2 separate regions of the Homo sapiens genome follow, and region 2 is linked to region 1. Evidence: fine-mapped expression QTL. A gene starts in region 1. The other region holds a variant in brackets. All regions are shown on one strand. Distances are from middle to middle.

Region 1 (2,917 bases):
TAAGCCTTCCACAACTTGTTCAAACCTTTTAGATTATTCCTATCTCACTTAAAACCATCCTTTCACCCTCTAAACTTAGGCAAGAAATCCACATTCCCATGCTTTTTACCAAAGGTACATTATCCTTTTCTTACATGAATTCTTTTCATAACTTACCCAGACCATCTACAAAATGCTTGGACTTTCTGAGTTTTCCTAAACATCTTTCTTTTTAAACAACCAGTCATTTTACGTTAGGACAAGAATTTATCGTACAAGATCTTTTCTCCTACAAAGCCACCATCTCTACAATCTTCCCTCACAAAAACATATCTTCATATATATAACTTTCTTCACATCTCTCCCCTACTTACTGGTTCCTTACTACCTTGTTTCATAAATAACTCTTTTTTTTAAAGTCCATAATTTGAATTAACTTTCAGATAACCTCCAAACTACACAAAATAATTCTTTCTCACCAATAACACATTTTTTGGCATATTTTGTATACAGAATTATATATTAACTATAATTCATATCCTTATGTATTAGTCTGTTTTCATGCTGCTGATAAAGACATACTTAAGACTGGGCAATTTACAAAAGAAAGAGGTTTATTGGACTTACATTTCCACATGCTGGGAAGGCCTCACAATCATGGTGGAAGGCAAGGAAGAGCAAATCACATCTTATGTGGATGGCAGCAGGCAAAAGGAGAGCTTGTGCAGGGCAACTCCCATTTTCAAAACCATCAGATCTCATGAGACCCATTCGCTATCATGAGAACAGCATAATTCAATCATCTCTCACCCACTGGATCCCTCCCCACAACACACGGTAATTATGGGAGTTATAAGAAGAGATTTGGGTGGGGATGCAAAGCCAAACCATATCATCTTAGTAACCTTAAATTTTAGTGAAACCTTAGGAAGCAAAAAATCCTAAACTATCAGATATTAGCATTTTATAGATGAGAATAATTCCACAATTTTTGGAAACATATTCCTCCCTATCATAACCCTTTCTTAATTGGAAATGACTGAGATATCCAATGGGCATCAAAAATACTTTTAAGATTTTAAATTACACAAAATTTACCTAATCATTCATCCCATTTACATGTACTTAAGTCTTTCATTTTTAACAGTTTATCTAGATTACTTCTGAAAACTGAGATATTAGACACCATCATTTAAAGTTAGTTATTTATTTGTTAACCATTTTTAATAGCCAATGAACATTATGTGTTCACCTAAATAAGAACCTCACAGTTAAATACATAGGTGTTTTTGCCAATAACCCAGAAGATTTAGCTAACAATATTAAATTAGTCTCATTTGTCAAAGAAGCCACATAAACTAAGGCCATTTTGTTTTGGCTGGGTTAATAGCTTTATAATCTTCTATGCCAAATGCTGACACTTCAACATTTCTAGCAAAGACAAATATAAAACCCAGACAAAAATGTATGCTGACAATTCTGAAGATATTTCTATTTTCATTTTACCAATAATTTTAAAGCCAGCTATTTAATGAAGATTTACTTAAGTCACATGAACTTGAAAATTGCTTGGACTTATTTATTTAATTTATGAGTGCTTTTTTATTTATAAGCTGATTTGGTTGACACAACATATAACAATAAGTGTACATACAAATAAACACATCTAGACATGTATACACACACACAAACGAAGATCCAATAGCTTTTACCTTGGAACTCTAGCCATGAGATATCAATACAAGCTCACAGGTTTTACATGGTTACACTTTGTTTGCTCCAATAGGTAATCCAGTGAAGGCTGTGAACCAAACATTTTTAAAGCAGTTCCGGTGGCAGTTTGATTTTTAAAGGCCAAACCTCCTCAGACTCCAAAGACACTGGAGCCAAATAGCACCAAAGGAGAGCACCATATGCTGACTAGGCCTGACCCTTCTTAGGACAGCAGCACCAAAGCCTGGATACATGCAACGTCATCCTGCTTTCCCATTCAACAGCAAACTCCAGATTCCAAACAATACTGGGGCCAAGTATTATTGCAAAAGAATATCAAATGTTTCCTCCTTAGATTATCAGGGTCAAATTCATTTCAATGGTTGAGGATGCAGCCAAGTGGGAAGTCAGGTGGAATAAATGGAGTGTTTCCTGTAGTGGTCTGCAAGAGAGAGACAATTCTAAGGAGGCCTTAGTACTAGACCTGAGAACCTTTGCCTAGGGCATCCCCTTTGGAGAGGCTGAGGTCTGGAGTTGGATCCCCTAGGCATCCCCCTTTGAGGTCCAGTCTAAAAGTGTCAGACATCTCTGACCTTAGGTGGGCACCAGTGTTGCTTTGTATGTTTTCCCTCCAGAGGCAATGGCCTAATATGAGCTTTTCTCTTGTCCCTGGATGAAGGTCTCAGCTTCTAGCTTCCTACCAATTTAGATAGGCCATATCTTCCTGCATTCCTTGCAAGACTAAGGAGGTTCCCGAACACTGCAGAGTTAACGGTACCAAGGCTAGTGGGATATTCCCCATGAAGAAATGGTGCAGAGGTTATATAAAAGATTGGGTTTATATTGGGTATATAAAAGATATATAGAATTTCTACGGGGTTCAGGGCAAGCAAACTGATGCCAAAGCAATGACCACCAAGCTCCCTTAAGTGGAGGTCCAAGATGTAGAATGTGTTCTAAAGCTTGTGGGTCCCAAAGGTCCTCAGCCAGTCAATAGATTCAGTAGGAGAAGGGAGGTCAAAATATCTAAGAGATATTATCTTTTGTCCTTACAGGCCAACTTTATGGGAGAATTTAGCTTAAGAAAGAGGGTTTAAGTCGCCTGAAATGTGTGTGAGTTCACCCTGGACGAGCTTCTGCTGCCAATTGCATCACAGGTAGGGATCAGGGACTATAACTCAAAAAGATACAAAAGAGTCCTTCCGCCTTCTGGGCAGGAGAGCTA
Region 2 (2,917 bases), 18 kb after region 1:
TGTTCAATATTGCAGAAGGTTCTTAAGCAACCCACCCTGCTCATGTTGAATTGTAAGTACTTCTCCAGAACTGCACACTGGAACGGGAAGAGAAATAACATGGACTTTCACACCATTAGGAAAGGAGACTTCATTATACTGAGCCCGTCTACTCCTGCACACTCCTGGGGTGGGATTGTGGGTCACAGGGAGACGTACGTGCATACTGCCGAAGAGCTCCCAAGTGGCTGGCTGCACCAGTTAACACTCCCCTGAGCAGTGTAGGGGAGTCTCAGAGGGTCACTTGGCATTTTCCATCATTTTCATTTTAGCCATTTTTGCAGGTGTGCGCAATGCTGTTTTTATAACCAACACATCATTTTTCTCTTCCTTTCCTGGAGGGGGAACCCAGCTTTTCTAGGCCCTCCACCCTTTGGGCAGGAGGAACTGGGTGTGTGGGGCGGGGGGAAGCCATCTCTGGGTGGTTGGTCAGCTGGGGCCTAACCACAGGAGGCAGATAGACTGAGGCTATGCCAAGCAGAAAGACTTATCAGGCACCTCTTGCCTTTCCTCATCTCTGCCGGTTCAAATCCTGCTCGCCCCGCAAGGGCAGATTGGAATTTACCTTCTCCAGAAAGCCTGGGGTGACTCTATCCCCTCACTCCTCCTCCCCCGTTCGCCAGCTTTTGTCTTGACATCGGCGGACCAAGAATGTGTGACTCTGGGCAAATCATTAACCTCTCTGGGCCTATTTCCTTATCTGGGGAACATCTGCACTTGAGCAACAGAAGTCTAAGATCCCTATCTGATTTGATGTTTTGCGACCCTTTTAAGGCGCAGGGCGCGAAAGAACAGAAACAGAAGTGTCCGTTCAAGTAGGTCGGCCGGGGTGTCACTCGTATAAAAACCTATGCTTTGAAGGTTCTCGTGTGTCTCGGCCTGCAGGTCTCGCTCAGAGCTGTGTCCCTGAACATCCACCCTGCTGGGGTGGCTTGACGCACTTCTGTGCAAATCTGTTCGCTCGCAACCCTACCTACCTCTCTCCCGAACCGGAGAAAACCTTCGGCGGGGTCCTTCCGGGTTTTGTGTCGAATCTGCGGCGGCGACCCGGCGCCGCGTCACGCGGTGGTGAATGTGCGGCAGCACGCGCGCCGCGTCGTTTACGCGGCGATTTCATCATGCTCCGAGCCGGGCGGCGCGCGCCGCTTCCGTCGCCACCCTCTCTGGACAGCCCAGGGCCGCAGGCTCATGCCCTCTCCGCGTCCAGTGCTGCTTAGAGGTGCTCGCGCCGCTCTGCTGCTGCTGCTGCCGCCCCGGCTCTTAGCCCGACCCTCGCTCCTGCTCCGCCGGTCCCTCAGCGCGGCCTCCTGC[C/G]CCCCGATCTCCTTGCCCGCCGCCGCCTCCCGGAGCAGCATGGACGGCGCGGGGGCTGAGGAGGTGCTGGCACCTCTGAGGCTAGCAGTGCGCCAGCAGGTACCGGTGTTTTGCGCTCTCCGCTAAGCCTCCGGCTCTCCTCCCAGGGCCTTCTTCTGGTCATCCTTCCCTCCTCCCCGGGGAACTGTCCTCCTCTTCGGTTACCCCTTTCTTTCCCTTCATCCTCTGGCGTCTTCTTCGCCTCCCCCACTTTGGTCCCAAGTCCCCCGTGCGTCAGCCACCTCCTCTCCCGCGGACCTCCGTCCTCCTCTCTTTTTGGATGACTCCCTGGAACCCCTCCGACTTCCTGCGTCCCTCTCCGGCTCCGTTCTCCCTTCCCCATTCTGTCACAGCCCGCGTCTCCTCTATTTCCAGTGGGGCTGGGATCTGTGACCCTTTGGTTGTCCTCGCCTCCTAACTGAATAACCTTAACTTCAGTTTTCCAGGCTCTGCTGTACTCTTTGTGCACCCTGGGTGGAAAGCCTCCTAATTCTTTCAGTGGTCAATGATGAGCCGAAAAACTGCCGGTTCTTTCGTCTTACGGCCAGGCCCTTTAATCTTTAGGATGCTTTGATAGTGTTTCCCCCTTAACATCTTCCTTCATTCAGTGCTTAGTTTAGCGGAATGATTGGCTGAGAAAATAGAATTGAAATGTGGATGTGGGGAGGTGTCGAACTTTTCTATTAATGCTGTGAACTCATCATCCTTTGCTCTTGTCATCTTTTCTGGCTTCTGAAAAGGCCGTTTGGAACCAGTGAGCCCTCAGATCGTAAACCTGGGAAACTAAGTGTTGCGGAGTGAAGTCAGCCATCCTTAGTATGGAATATTTTGACATTTGATTTTCCCGAAGGTGAGGGAAGGTTTCATGGGCTGAAGGACTTGGTGATTTAATATAGACCTCCTTTTCCTAGGGCACTGCCATAGAGTTTAGAATTTAGAGATATCAAGGAAAAGATTATTTCAGATGATTCCCATATGCAATTAGGGAGAGCCAGAGCTTGCAGTAGGACCCCGGAGATCATGACTTAGTAGTAAACACCAAACGGGTTTCTCCTGCATGGGCGCCTGATGCAATAATTTGCCTTAGCTACAGAGGGTGGAACCCTATCTCGGAAATAATTCATTGGGGCATAGCTGCCGCAAATTCAGCCACTTTGCCATCTGTCCTCTTCGCTGGTTTGAGCCTGACCGATTTTAATAAATAGCCTTTCATTTTGAAATATCACCACGGGCTTAACTTTTTTCTTCATGATTGGTGTCAGAACACCGATTGCATATTCTGTCTCCCTCCACCCACCTTCCACTCCACAAATAAAATTAGGTGTGGTTCCTTTGTCTTTTCTTAACTTGCCATTTTAAAAAATATCCTTCCCTTTAGAAGGAAGCATACAACTAATTTGGAGAAAAAAAAAAACCACCACACCCAAACCCCTCCCTCTGCCACGTTAGCCTGGAACTGCAGTGAAAATCATCCATCGGTAGTTAAGACAGGATCTAGTTAACTAAAGTAAACTTTGATCGCGGCAGC

Evidence for each region. PIP is the estimated chance that this variant, and not a neighbour inherited with it, causes the effect.
Region 2: its variant is fine-mapped to the expression of GARS1-DT in kidney cortex (GTEx, PIP 0.99).

What each region holds. Positions count from the first base shown.
Region 1 is chr7:30,575,958-30,578,874 of GRCh38, forward strand. It overlaps GARS1-DT (GARS1 divergent transcript), which reads right to left and starts at 1,822. Exons shown (of 7, transcript NR_038889.1): 1 at 1,692-1,822; 2 at 607-753.
Region 2 is chr7:30,593,695-30,596,611 of GRCh38, forward strand. GARS1 (glycyl-tRNA synthetase 1) reads left to right here and starts at 1,184. Exons shown (of 17, transcript NM_002047.4): 1 at 1,184-1,449. The coding sequence starts at 1,228. RefSeq lists enhancers at 639-1,252, 883-1,232, 1,253-1,866, 1,867-2,480 and a silencer at 2,376-2,475. The variant C/G (reference allele first, on the strand shown) is at 1,351.